4 linked regions of the Homo sapiens genome follow. The protein of the gene in region 1 interacts with the protein of each later gene in a pairwise test. Each region holds a gene or a part of one and is shown in the gene's direction. Other genes may lie near its edges.

Evidence for each region. Proteins that work in one complex are often made in the same cells at the same time.
Region 2: the proteins of DNAJB13 (region 1) and PIBF1 interact in a two-hybrid assay, tested with the Homo sapiens proteins (one large-scale study listed by BioGRID).
Region 3: the proteins of DNAJB13 (region 1) and MSS51 interact in binary tests that used the Homo sapiens proteins (3 or more experiments, as listed by UniProt).
Region 4: the proteins of DNAJB13 (region 1) and LHX4 interact in binary tests that used the Homo sapiens proteins (3 or more experiments, as listed by UniProt).

What each region holds. Positions count from the first base shown.
Region 1 is NC_000011.10:73,954,026-73,957,525, forward strand, and holds part of DNAJB13 (dnaJ homolog subfamily B member 13), read left to right. Parts: intron 1-1,887; exon of another isoform or gene 1,888-2,007; coding exon of another isoform or gene 2,008-2,177; intron 2,178-3,500. UniProt on the Homo sapiens protein: Functions as part of axonemal radial spoke complexes that play an important part in the motility of sperm and cilia.
Region 2 is NC_000013.11:72,795,633-72,799,132, forward strand, and holds part of PIBF1 (progesterone-induced-blocking factor 1), read left to right. Parts: intron 1-2,274; coding exon 2,275-2,394; intron 2,395-3,500.
Region 3 is NC_000010.11:73,430,762-73,434,713, reverse strand, and holds the start of MSS51 (putative protein MSS51 homolog, mitochondrial), read left to right. Parts: upstream 1-1,152; 5' UTR 1,153-1,201; exon of another isoform or gene 1,202-3,952.
Region 4 is NC_000001.11:180,264,764-180,268,263, forward strand, and holds part of LHX4 (LIM/homeobox protein Lhx4), read left to right. Parts: intron 1-1,439; exon of another isoform or gene 1,440-1,467; coding exon of another isoform or gene 1,468-1,490; intron 1,491-1,628; coding exon 1,629-1,831; intron 1,832-3,500. UniProt on the Homo sapiens protein: May play a critical role in the development of respiratory control mechanisms and in the normal growth and maturation of the lung. Binds preferentially to methylated DNA.

The sequences.
Region 1 (3,500 bases):
ATAATAATAATAATAATGGCTGGACACAGTGGCTCACACCTGTAATCCTAGCACTTTGGGAGGCTGAGGCAGGTGGACCACTTGAGGTCAGGAGTTTGAGACCAGCCTGGCCAACTTGGTGAAACCACTTCTCTATTAAAAATACAAAAAATTAGCCAGGTGTAGTGGCGCATGCCTGTAATCCCAGCTACTGGGGAGGCTGAGACAGGAGAATTGCTTGAACCCAGGAGGCAGAGGTTGCAGTGAGCCGAGATCGTGCCATTGCACTCCAGCCTGGGTGACAGAGTGAGACTTCGTCTCAAAAAAATAAATAAAAAAAAGTAGGCCGGGCGCAGTGGCTCACACCTGTAATCCCAGCACTTTGGGAGGCTGAGGCGGGCGGATCACGAGTTCAGGAGATCAAGACCATCCTGGATAACATGGTGAAACCCCGTCTCTACTAAAAATACAAAAAAATAGCCGGGCGTGGTAGCAGGTGCCTGTAGTCCCAGCTACTCGGGAGGGTGAGGCAGGAGAATGGCGTGAACCTGGGAGGCGGAATTTGCAGTGAGCCGAGATCGCGCCACTGCACTCCAGCCTGGGCAACAGAGTGAGACTCCGTCTCAAAAAAAAAAAATAAAATAAATAAATAAATAAATAAATAAATAAGGCTGGGCACGGTGGCTCATGCCTGTAATCCCAGCACTTTGGGAGGACGAGGCAGGAGGATCTCCTGAGGTCGGAAGTTCAAGACCAGCCTGGCCAACAAGGTAAAACCCTGTCTCTACTAAAAAAAATTAGCCAGGCGTGGTGACGGGTACCTGTAATCCCAGCTACGCGGGAGGCTGAGGCAGAAGAATCGTTTGAACCTGGGAGGTGGAGGTTGCAGTGAACCAAGATTGAGTCATTGTACTCCAGCCTGAGCAACAAGAGCAAAACTCCATTTCAAAAATAAATAATAAATAAAAATAAATAGAGTGATTAAAAGAACTATGTAGGTTTCAAAAAGCAGTCCTTAACCCTTCTCCCCTGCAATAACTCTAAGTCACATGTATGACATGCTTGCTCATGGGATCACCTAGATATTGATCAAAAAAAAAAAGAGCTAAACTTATATAAGGAAGAAAAACATCATGATAGTTTATAATTGCCCAGGATTCATAATTGCAGCGTTCAAGCTGTGATTTCACCCCTTTCTCTCCCACTCAGGAAAGCAGGTGAATGAGAGTGATGTTATTGCAGGGATAATTTTGAAACCACTCAAATTTATATGAAAAACTAAACCTTTCTCAAACCTTGTTACTTTTTTTTTTTTTTTTTTTGAAACGGAGTCTCTCTCTGCCACCCAGGCTGGAGTGCAGTGGCAGGATCTCTGCTCACTGCAACCTCCACCTTCTAGGTTCAAGTGATTCTTCTGCCTCAGCCCCCTGAGTAGCTGGGACTACAGGTGTGTGCCACTGTGCCCGGCTAATTTTTTTATTTTTAGTAGAGACGGGGTTTCACCATGTTGGCCAGCCTGGTCTCGAACTCCTGATCTCAAGTGATCTGCCTGCCTCGGCCTCCCAAATTGCTGGGATTACAGGAGACTGAGATGGGCAGATCACTTGAGGCCAGGAGTTTGAGACCAGCATGGCCAACACGGCAAAAACCCGTCTCTACTAAAAATACAAAAATTAGCCAGGTGTGGTGGTGGGCACCTGTAGTTCCAGCTACTTGAACCTGGGAGGCGGACAATGCAGTGAGCCCAGATCGCGCCACTGCACTCCAGCCTAGGTGACAGAGTGAGACTCTATCTCTAAATAAATAAATAAAAATAACTGACTGTGACCTTTATAATTGAGAAAGGCTGGTTTGGAAGGCTGTGACAATTGTCTTCAAGTCTCTGAAGGTAGATATTCTCTCTGTAAGGTCCCCAGGGCACAGCCAGGACCCTTATGGATGGAGGGGCAGTTGCAGGACCACAGATCCAGCTTCCTGTCCGCAGTAAGAGGAGGCATTGCCTAAAAGTCAGAGCCATGCCACAGTGAGATGGACTGTCCTGCAGGATGCTTAGCATGTATCATTTATTTACTCACTCCTGCTCAGTGCCCAGCACTGGGGCTAGAACTGGATGCAGCAACTCCAGGACCTCCCAGTCTATTAGACAGAGGAGTCAATATACACCTGGAACACAGCACTGCTGAGGACAAGGATCAAAGGTGCTGGGGACTTGGGAAGGGGAGTCTAACCTAGAAAGGAGGCTAACAATCAGGGAAGGTGCCCTGGAGGATTTGGCACCTGAGTCGAAAGTTGAAGGATGAATTAAAAATTGCCCAGAGAAGCTGGGAGGAGCTGCAGAGGGGTGAGTCATGCAGGAGAGGTCAAGGGAGCAGCAAGAGAGAACAGTGAGTGAGGCCAGAGGGAGAAGCAGGGGCTTGGATCTTAGAATGAGACATCCGAGTTTTATGCTGGAGACAATGGGGAAACCAGTGAAGGGTTATGCCAGGAGAGGGACCTGGTCAGAAAGTATTTCAGAAGGCTGGGCGCTGTGGCTCATGCCTGTAATCCTAGCATTTTGGGAGGCTGTGGTGGGCGGATCACCTGAGGTCAGTAGTTCAAGACCAGCCTGGCCAACATGGTGAAACCCTGCCTCTACTAAAAATACAAAAATTAGCCAGGCGTGGTGGCTCGCGCCTGTAATCCCAGCTACTTGGGAGGCTGAGGCAGGAGAATCGCTTGAACCCAGGAAGCAGAGGTTGTAGTGAGTAGAGATTGTGCCATTGCACTCCAGCTTGGGCAACAAGAGAGAAACTCCATCTCAAAAAAAAAAAAAAAAAAAAGTATATGTCTGGGCTCAGTGAATTTATGATACCTTGGAGAGGAGATGGCAAGTAGGCACTTGGAGGTAGTCTTTGGCTCAGGGAAGTGGTCTGGTTCGGGATGGAGATTTAGCTGTGAGAGACAGAAGCCTGCCTCTGGAATAAGAAGAGAAGCTGTGGAACTCTGGGGATGGCGGCGAGGCGGGTGTGGGCACTAGAAAAGCGGGTGGAGGCAAGGTGGGGGGTCACGCCTGGGCTGAATGACAGGCGTCTGTGCTGGATGCTTCCCGTGCAGCCCTCCAGACCCACTCCCCACCCTTCCTGCCCTGCTGCGCTCCGGGAGGCTTCCTTGCCCTCAGCCTTCCACATGGAGCCGGCCCAGGGGAGCATCAGGCGGGGAGATGGGGAGGGAGAAGGGCAGGGCTGCGGCTTTATTCCCCAGTTCTCCTCCTATGGGGTCTCTTCAGTCAGCTGTGTCGCTTGACAGAAGGTCACAGCTCCGCTGAGGGCCCTGTCCACACACTCCAACAGACCCCTCGGGGTTCCTGGCCTGGGAAAACTGCACTCCGCTGTCCCTGGCAGTCTCCCTCCGCTCCTCCAGCACCTGGGCGAATGGTCCCTTTATTAAGCTCTCCACAAACCACCCAATCCGCTCCATCTCTCCCCCACCCCGGGTCACTGCCGATACATATTCTCAGACGCTGCGATGTCTGCCCTTCAGAA
Region 2 (3,500 bases), on another chromosome or scaffold:
ACTTTTGAAGTACCCAATTGATACATTATTTTATGGCTATGGATGGTGAATGGTGTTGAGATCCAAATTTTAAAGGATCATGACCATTGATCTCCAAAGTCAAGCAATAAATAGGTTTCTGAAGTTAATGACTGCATAGTCCATAGAAATGAATTATCGTAAACTGGTGGTTTCTTACATTCTCAAAATGAAAAATTATAAACAACAGAGTAGTTGTTGCCAGGGGTTGGTTGGGGATAGTGGGAGAGAGGAGTCAGCGTGGTTATAAAGGGATAGGATGAGAAAGAACTTTGTGGTGAGAGATTGGCGCAAGATCTTGATTGCAGTGCTGGTTACACAAATCTAGAACACCTAGGATTAATCTATGGCAGTGGTCTCAAATATTTTGGTGTCAGCATTCATTTACATTCTAAAAGTTATTGAGGACCCCAATGAGTGTTTGTTTATATGGGCTGTATCTATTAATATTTACCATACTAGAATTTTAAACTAACAACTTTTTTAAACACAAGAATAAGCACACAATTCCATTGGCCTTAAGAGTGATAATGTCATATGTCATGTAGCCACTGGCAAACTCCACTGAACAGTCATGAGAGAATGAGAATGAAACGGGGAAAAAAAATCTTAATAATTACTAGGAAAGTCGTTTTGATCTTGTGAATTCCCTGAAAGGATCTCAGAGTGGCGAGTGGGGCAGAGTCCAGGAGTCCCAAAACCATATGTTGAGAACTGCTGCTTTTTAATATGTAGATGTCATTTTACCCTGAGAGGCTTGAATTTTTTAATCCCTAAAAAGGGTTAATAGTAACGGTGCGTTTCTATTGGGGATAATTGTAAAGACTATAACTATGTATGTAAAATGCTTGTGAGCATAGTGCTTAGAAGATAGTAAACACATAAAAATGTTGTCTATTGTTTTTGCTGGAGTGGTGGTTGCTATTCTTGGTTCTCATTGGGAAAAGATTTGCAGATTAGTGATGTCTGATAAAATGAAGTTACTTTTTTGTTCAGCTGTTTTTTTTTTTTTTTTAAAAGGCTCAAATACAGCTTTTCTGTCCAAAGTATACTGTCCAAAACAAATTAAATATCTCAAATTCTGTTTTTGAGGCTTCATTTACAGTAGATATAAAGTATCACACTGGTGGCAGTTACACATATTTTTGCTGTTTGTTTTCTTAATATTCCTTCTTACATCTTTTGTTTTCACAGACAATATTATCCTTAACTAATTAATTATATGCAGATTCTTTTTGTTGAGGGCTAGTATTAAGATTTGCCTCTTACCAAATAATGGTATTCTTGTAATACCGTCATATGTTAAGGAGTTTCAGATTGCATGCCTATATGATAGCCCCTAATTACTCTCTCCTAATTTGCTGTGATGATTTCTTAGTTTTATGGGACCTTGTCAGATGGAACACTTTACTGAGCTAGGGTAGGAAAATTTCTCTGAGACAAGTATGAGTGGAAAGAGAGACCTGAACTAAATGGAAGTAATGATGTGAAAGATACCTCTTGATTCATTCTGATTAGACTTCCACTGTAGGGACAGCAGTAAATAAAGCTTTGCCAAGAGCCTGGGATGAAAATAAAGAATACACTTTACCTCTTCATCAAGTATTTATTGAGTGCTTATCATATATTTAGGCATTGGAAATACAGCGGTGTATAAACCAGACAAAAATCCCTGCCCTCAGGTTGTGAAAGTGGAGCAACACAGGCAATAACTTAAAAATTAAATATGTAGAATATCTGTTTGTCAAAGGTGCTACAGAGAAAAGAGCAGGGGTGAAAAATAGGGAGTGCTACTTAAAATTAGGTAAAGAAATCAGGGAGGGCTTTACTAACAAGGTAATATTTGGTCAGAGACCTATAGGGAGACAAGGCATGAGCCATGCATTTATATGGGGGAAGAACTTCTCTAGCAGAAGAAACAGCAAGAGCAAGACTCCTGAACATTTGTGATATGTTCCAGAAGTTTACAAGCACCTAGTGTGGAGTGAGCAGTAGTAGATGAGTAGTAATGGAGTGTCAGTAGAAGGGAGGAAATACTGTCAAAGGTAAGAGGTTATAAATCATCTGGCCCTTGAGGGAAGTTAATTGAACATTAAGGCTTGATAGAAAGTATTAGTGGCTAGGGTCCATTAATGACTGTCTTGTTGTAGTTTTGTAAATATTTATCTTTATTACTGATAAGTGAGAGCACTACAAATTACAAATTTTAATTGTAATTTGGATTTAAGACTGCTTATTAATTTAATTTTTTTCAAGGTTCGCTTCTATGAGCTAGTGAATCCATTAAGAAAGGAAATCTGTGAACTACAAGTGAAAAAGAATATCCTAGCAGAAGAATTAAGTACAAACAAAAACCAACTGAAGCAGCTGACAGAGGTTTGTATGGTTTTGATTGCTGGTGGGAAGAAGCTTCGGCTTTTTCTGTAGAGTCCCTCAGGATTTGTGATAAGGCATATAAAAGTCAGTGATTGAAAAATGGGACTATGGGATGGTGACTGCTACAGTTCAATAATGGGAAGGAGGTTAAATTGGAAGTAGTCATCTTAAACATTGACAAGACAAGTCTGTGTTATTGACGTATCCTATAGTTGAGCTTTTATTGTTGCAAGTCAATTTTATAATCAACTGCTTTTGAAATCCTAATATGGGCTATATCTGAAAATTGCTGTGTATCCTTAGATGACGCATATGCATGTATTTATTTAGTAATTTGTCTCTATTTTTAACATCACTTTGTCAGGAAATTTAAGCAAGAAACAAGAAATGTAGGCCAAGCTATGCAGGGGATCTCTTGCAGGTGCCATAAGAAAGAAGAAAAGGAGAATATTTTTACTTTGAACTAAGTTGACTCGTAGGTTCTGGTTTGCCTAAGACTGTTGCCATTATTCCTGTGAATAAATATTAATAGCACCCCTTTATTTTCAAAATTATCTCAGCCTAGACGATGAATATAGTAATCATAAATCAACATTTATATAGAAGGGTGGACTAATCATTAACTTGGTTGTATTATTGACCAGATATCCTAGAATACTATCTTGTAGTTATAGTCTACTAACAAAAAAATAATGGTAGATTGATTCATTCTACCATGTAACAGTTGGAAATGGGTGGCTGTTTTTCTTCAAATATTTCGTTATTCTAAAAGGAAAACACTTCTAGTTTACAAATGGGGGCTGCTGCAGTTCTTCATTACAAGTTAGCCTTGTTCGTGATATGAGATGGAGCTACTGTCCATTTATTACTTACGTGGCTTCTTTGTGAAGTGCAGTTAACTCTCATAATATTTATTCTGAGCATGTGTACTGATACTAGCATTAACCCCAGTGGTGTGCATGGTGCTGTGCTAGGTGCTGGCAGTGAACCCAAGAGAGGCAATGCCTGCCCTTCTAGAGTTTACTTTCTAGCAGGTTAGGATTAGAACGTTAGGTGATATTTTGACACTCTCATTTACTGTGTGACCATGACCAGGTCATTTAATG
Region 3 (3,952 bases), on another chromosome or scaffold:
TCCACCTTCCCTGCATGTAGTTTGTACTTTTTACAGTTTGGGGTTCCTGTGTGGATTTGATTTGCCACATTCCGGGACCTCATTGCGAGTGATTCTGTTCCCCAGTTTGATGATGTTCAAAGAAGCAGGTAAGTGAGAGCTGGGGTCAGATATAAGCAGAAAGTCAGAACTTTTTTATTTAAAAATTTTAAAAAAATTTTTTGAGGGTAAGAAAGATCTTGCAGTCTTTTAGGACCACTGCCCTAACAACTTCAGATAGGCTAGCTGTAAGTAGAAAGAAGCTAGGACTGTGGAATTGAATTTCCTGGATCAGCTGCAATTACAAGGAGGATAAGAGAATGGTTGAGCTGATTCTTTTCTATTTTCTTTTCCTAGAAATAGTATGTATTTTTAGTCATTAACTAGTATTTTGGTTTTGTTTAATATCCCAGAAGCATTTATTCCTCTCTTAATACAGGTAAAGTGCTCCTGATGACTCTCTCACTCAGAGAGTTATCTTACCCTTCTTTCAGGGAAAGTGAATTTTACAAGTTAATTCTGCATGTTTCCCCTACAACTGATTTCATTCTGTACCATTAAATGGCCATTTATTTTCTCCCTTCTACTTAATCCAAGATTGGACATTGTTGAGTTTTGTTTGAACAATGTTTGTTATGCTGAAAAAGGACACCAGGCCTGGGGGAACTCATCCTGTGTCTAGATCAACAAACAGAACTCCAGAGGGTCCTCTGGTTCCTCCCACTTGGTTGGAAAGGTGCTTACCCTTTCCAATCAAATATTGACTTCTGCACTAATCCAAAGGGTTTTCTTCTGAAGCTGTAAACTGAGAACAGAAATATTGCCTTGAGTGAGAGAAGTCTAGGAAGCAGCAGGTTTCATTTTTTGTCAGCCTGCCTGGCCTTTACTTGGCTAACACTTGGGAGTGTTGACAGTCCTGAGCCCCCTTGGCAGAGAACAAAGGTTAGAGAGAAGCCCTCAGGCAGGGGGACAGATCCCTCTTTGCCTCATTAGGGAGAATTCAGCCTTGTCTGTCTGGTTGGCAGGGCACACTTAATCACTGAGACTCAGCATTTCAGCAGTTTGCAAAGGAAAGTGATATGAAGGGACAGCTGCAAGTAAGCCACAACCTAGATCTGAAGAGATCAAGCACTCATTTCACTTGGAGGAAAGAGAGAAGGAAGGAAGCTGAGGACTTAGCAGGGTAAGTTTTTTTTTCCGTCAACCTGTCTGCTTGCTTAGTTTATAATTGAGTAAAGTATTTATCACCCCAGGCAGTGTTAATCACTGATTAAACAGCTGAATGTGGCCATAATTACAGTGTCCTTAATGTATTTCTCCTTCTCTTTTCCTACCCCCTTATAAGGATCTCCAATGACCAGTTTCAGTCTTCCTTCTCCCTACCTCTCCAAAGACGTTTTGCATTTTTTGGTGACTTACAGAAAATTAGATGAGCACTCCTTATCTGGAGATAGTGAAAATATGACTGTAGTTTAGGTGAAACTTGGGACTCTTGGTGGTAAAGAAGAAGATGGGAAACCTAGGTCTAGGAATAGATTAATATTTTGTCTTGAATTTGGACATGAAGGATAAAAGTTTTTCTAGGCAATCAAGATCATGTCTCCTCTCCAGTTCTTGGTGTTGGTGTTCTCTCTCTTATACTGGGACTAAATTAGAGCCTAAGTCACTGGGGATGGCTAGAAAAAAATGAAAGGGATTCCCTTTCTAAGTGGAGAGCATTCTAGACTCTGGAAAGTTCAAAGAGCTTACTGCAATTCTTTCCAGCTTCTCCTGTGAGTCCCCTGTTTTTTCCTTTGTTTCTCTCAGTTTATAACCTGTGAACAGGGAGTAGCCTGGGGCTCTTTACAGGAGATTTAGAACCAGGGAAGCTGTGTCTGGGCCTGGGGTATATAAACTCAAACATGAACCTGATGATGTATATAGATGCAGATCAAAGACCTGGCTTCTCACCCACCTTCTTTCTTTTCTGCCAGAAAGCTAACTCATTTGTATCATGAACATTGTGCTCTAGACACAGAGGAGACTGTGACATTAGGGATTTTTACCACCACTCCTCTTCCTCAAACTGTGTGATCCTTTTGCTTTCTGACCAGTTCAGCCAACTCCCAGATTGCCAAGAGCTAATCTTCCTTTAGAGGAAGACCTCACCTTGGAAATGCGGAAAAGTAAAGCAGTACCTTTCTGACCTTAAGTGGCTTGCTTCCATTGCAGCAAAAAGGCTTATGTTTTAACTTCAGGGAGATATCTATTATAAATTCTGGGATTTAAGACCCTAGAGTTGTCTCAAATCACACTTTCCTTCCATACCTATTTAAAAAAAAAAAAGTCATTCTTTCAAGGTTTAAGAAAGTGGTGTCTTGGCCGGGCGCCGTGGCTCATGCCTGTAATCCCAGCACTTTGGGAGGTCGAGGTGGGTGGATCACGAGGTCAGGAGTTCGAGACCAGCCTGACCAACATGGTGAAACCCCATCTCTACTAAAAATACAAAAATTAGCTGGGCATGGTGGCGCGAGCCTGTAATCCCAGCTACTCAGGAGGCTGAGGCAGGAGAATCACTTGAACCCGGGAGGTGGAGGTTGCAGTGAGCCAAGATCGCACCACTGCACTCCAGCCTGGGTGACAGAGTGAGACTCTGTCTCAAAGAAAGAAAGAAAAAGAAAATGTTATCTTGCCTGAGGCAGGTGGGTAGAGTAGATAAATGCTTTTTGTAGAATGGCAGTGATTCTGAAAATGCAATGAGAATGTGAGGTGATTAAAAGTGGAGGACAGAATGAGGTTAGTTGTTGGAAATTGGGCCCTAAAGTGTGAAGGGCAATTCCATTTACTCTTTTGGTAAAAGGACATGACCCTTAAACCCTAAGATAATCTAATATCATTAGGTCCAATTTCTTCATTGAAGGTAATATATAGGATATGGTATACAGATGAGCTTGACTATTTCTGTTCTGTGGACTGAAACCATCCATTCACCCATGGGATAAGGGGAGACATTAAGAGGGTGGATGGAAACATAAGGATGAGGAGATAGAAAGTACAAAGGAAAATACAAATTTGTTCCTCCATTAACCTGAGGACAGGTTTTTAAGAGTCATGTTGTAAGATATGGATATGAGCTGGATAATTCTGGGAGCTTTTTGTTTATTTTTGCCACCTGCATACACCTCAGCTGCATGATGATTCTGAGGTTTTTCCTAACAGATCTGATCTAGAAGGATCAAATGTCAGATCATTTTTGTAACAAAACATGATCCCTGGTTTGAACTTTAACAGTTTCCTCATTCACACTGCCAGCGTTTTTAATCCTCTGTTATTTCTCTGTACCTGAAGACAATCTGGGGATTAATAACTTTTTAGCCTCTCAATCTCTATGAATACCTTCCTTCCTTTCTTTTTTAATCGAAGTGAAAATCATATAACATAAAATTAATAATTTTAAAGTGAGCAATTAAATGGCATTTAGTGTATTCACGGTATTGTTCAACCATCAATTTTGTCTTGTTCCAAAACATTTTTATCACCCCAAAAGAAGACCCCATAACCATTAAGCAGTTACTCCCCATTTTCCCTTCCACCCAGCCCTTAGCAACTACCAATCTGCTTTCTGTCTCTGGGTTTACCTATTCTGGATATTTCATAGAAATGGCATCATACAACATGTATACAACATTTTGTGTCTGGCTTTCTTCACTTAGTATAATGTTTTTTGAAGTTCCTCTACATTGTAGCGTGTATCAGTATTTCATTTCTTTTTATAGCTGAATAATATACATCTTCATATGTATATTTATATCCCAATTTGTTTATCCATTTATCCATTGATGGACCTTTGGGTTGTTTCTACCTTTTAGCTGTTGCGAATAGTGCTGCTATGAACATTCACATATAAGTATTTGTTTGAGTATCTGTTTTTAAATATTTTGGGCACATACCTAAG
Region 4 (3,500 bases), on another chromosome or scaffold:
CTAAATGGGCCCCATCTCTCTGAAAACCAAGAGGCATTCCAGGAATTCAGAAGCCTGGGGTCCTCCCAAGCCACCACCTCTCAGCCCCTCACACCCCAACACCCTTCTTATACCCATCTCAGAAGAGTGTTCCCTGAAGTACACTCTGGGTCTTTCAGGATTACCCATGCAGACTTAGAGAACCCCCACTTTTCTCTGGGATGCTGTGTCCCTGGTGGGGGGCGTCTGAGGCTGCTGCTGGCCATGCCTATTCCGGGCCCCCATAACCCCCTCAGCAGGTATCATTACTGCATAACAGACCTATCATTCTGCATTAATCTGGTATTCATCATGATAGCCATGACCATAATTAATTTATTTGGTATTAATGTGGATGAAATATGTACTGTCCTTTCAGGGGAAATCAGGCTGCCTATAAGCATTAGTTAAAAGGACCATTAAAATCAAACCTTCCCCAGATCCATTAGGCGAAGTCTTTCATCCTGAAGAAGATAAAGTTCTGCTGTGTGAAATGTCATGAATAATTAGGTTGATTGCTGTTTTAAACTCTGCCCTTGCTTTCCCAATGCCTCCCGCCTCCCTCCTGAAGCGGGGAAGGCTCACCTGCAGCCACGCACCCTCCTTCACTGTCCCTGTCGGCCCCCAAATTTCCCTCGTCTCCTATGACCATCGGTGTGCCTCTGTTGATCTCTATGACCAGAATGGGGAAAGGGAGTGGAAACAACCCCACTGGACGATACTTTTAAGTGTCAATTTCTCCTTCCTTCCCGGCCTTGGCAGGGGGTGGCTTGCTTGGTAGAAGCTGCCTTGGTGGCAGCAGGTAGCTTCCTTTTGCCTCGGTGTTGTTCTGGAAAGGTGCTGACCAAGGAGAGGTCTGAAGCAGCATTTTCCAAACTGTAATCTGCAGACTCCTTGTCCCGAATGCTGTAGGGGCTGAAAAGTGCAGCTTCCTGGGCCCTTCCCAAACCACCATGCCCCAGGCTGTGTGCGTGCATAGGAAGGGGATGGAGGTAGGCTTGGAGGGCTTTGTGTGTGCAGAATGGAGGTGAGGGGAGAAATGGAGGCAAAGGAGAGAGAACAGCTGTCAGGACAGCCTTGCTCTGCTGACAAAGTGCATTTTCTCTGCAGCGTGCTGTCCCCTGGCCAGGCAGGGCCTCCTCCCTGGGAGTGTGTGAAAAGGTGTTGCTGGGTGCTTTCTACACACAGCCTGTGGCACACACAGTTCCCTGTGAGGATGTCCTCTGGGATCAACCATAAGGGTGAGGAAGCTGGGAGGTGGAGGGGGAGACAGCCTGCTTTGAGGGACTTAGAAAGTCCACCTGCTCCCCCTGTGAATTGATGGGTGTTAATCGGGCAGCTGGAATCCGGGGGCATCAGCTTTGGAAAAGGTACCTGAGGGAGACTCTAGTTCTCATCAGTCCCTTCTTTGGTGGTTGAAGAGTCCCAGGCACAAAGCAATGAAGCTAGATGGAGGCAGAGAGGACCAGACGGTAAGCTCTGGGTGACTGGGGGGTGAGGCTCATGGAGTCCCGGAGTGGTGGGGTAGGAGGGAGGCTGCTCCAGGAAGTTGGGGGAAGCCAGATCCCTTGCTCCCTGTGTGCCCTAATCCTTTCCTGCTGCCCTGACAGGCGCTTCGGCACAAAATGCACGGCCTGCCAGCAGGGTATCCCCCCAACCCAGGTGGTCCGCAAGGCCCAGGACTTTGTCTACCACCTGCACTGCTTTGCTTGCATCATCTGCAACCGGCAGCTGGCCACGGGGGACGAATTCTACCTCATGGAGGACGGGCGGCTGGTGTGCAAGGAAGACTACGAGACAGCCAAGCAGAACGGTAAGCAGCATGGCCCCGCATGGTCCCCTCTCCAGGCCTTTGTTTGGGCCACGCCCTCTGCCTGAGGTGCCCTTCTCATGGCGTCCCACCTGCCCATCCCTCAGAGCCCTACTCATGCACCGCCACCTCTGAGAAGCGTCCCAGATCTCCACACTGAGAGTAAATGCTGAACACCTCCCCGGCCGTTAGCACTCGCCGGCTTCATGGAAGTGTTCATCCAGCCATGGTTCCTGAGAGCCTGCCTGTCTCCATGGTAGGCTCAGAAGCAGCCAAGAACCTGGTTGTTACCATGGTGGTGGCCTCCTTCCCTGGGTGGAGGCTGGGGTGCTGAGGGGTGGCTGGGAGCTTGGTCTGTATTGGACACGTGGGGCTGCCGCTTAGTTTTGCACATCAGGGTGCACATGGACCTCTCAGCAGCCCCTGCCTCAAAGGCCGTCGGTGAGAGCCCAGCACTGGCCTCTGCACACTTCATACATCTGTCTGTTAATTGTGTTCTGTTCGCCTCGCAGACTGTGGGCTCCTCTAGGGCAGGGCCTCCTGGAGTTTCTGCAAGTGCCCAGTGAGTGCTAAAAGAAGAGGCAGGACACATGCCAGATTCAGGGAGGCTCCGTCTCAGCAATATAGCTCCCTCCACCCACTTCAATATAGCTGCCCCCACCCCCTTCACCACAACCACTGCAGGGCCACTGCCCACGGTGGCAGCAGGAGCTCTGCATGGTGGAGGCCGAAGTCAGGTCCCGCATTTAGCAGCCACGCCTGGAAAGGCCTAGCTTGGCCTGGCGGCAGCGGCTCTCGCCCTACATGCCATGCGCTTGGGCAGCCCGGGGACTTTCCAGCGTAGAGCCCAGAACAACACATTCCCCATGCTCCCCTCGCAAAGCCAAGGTGGACACTTTTATTCCTGCAGCCCTACCTCTGGCTTCTCACTCCCAGATGCACCCACATGGTCGTGGGGTCAGGCCCTGGCTCTGAATTTGGGATTTGGCCAAACCCAACATGATAACCTCAGAGGTGTGAACGCACAAAACATCAAGTTCCTTGGCCTTTGACTAGAATTTTGATCAACTCAGGGTGTTACTGTGCAAAAACGGCTCTTGTTGACAGCTCTGGGCTTGATGAGAAAAAAAATTAACAACAATTTTATGTATCTCCTTCTAGATCTTTTCTGGGCCCACACACATATTATACAGATCTCATCAATAATGGAGAAACTGGTTTTTTGTTCATTGAACACAGTATAAAATAAGGGGATTGTGGTGGTGAGGAAGCAGAGGGGATTCATAAGGGCCCTTTAGGTGAGCCAGCTGGAGCTGGGTTTGGCTTTGGTCCATGGCAGGAGTGGGCAGGGCTTCCTGTCTCTTTGAGGACCTTCCCTCCCACCACCCCCACAGCTCTGGCCTTTCAGGGTGGACAGAGGCCTTTGACCTCCTTCCTCCAGAGACCTGGGGCCTCTGCAAACCCATCCCAAGGCTCTTTGCCTGCAATGTACTAATCTGCTCTGGTTTCTTAAAACTCACTCCATGCTATTGCCTTGAAGTCAATTGTGATGTCATGGGAGATTAGGGCAACTTGTCAGGGATGAACCATCACAGCAGATGGACTCAGAGATACCAAGACACCTTTGGAAGTCTAGTGCCGTTCATCAGAGATACTAAGATGGCACGACCTC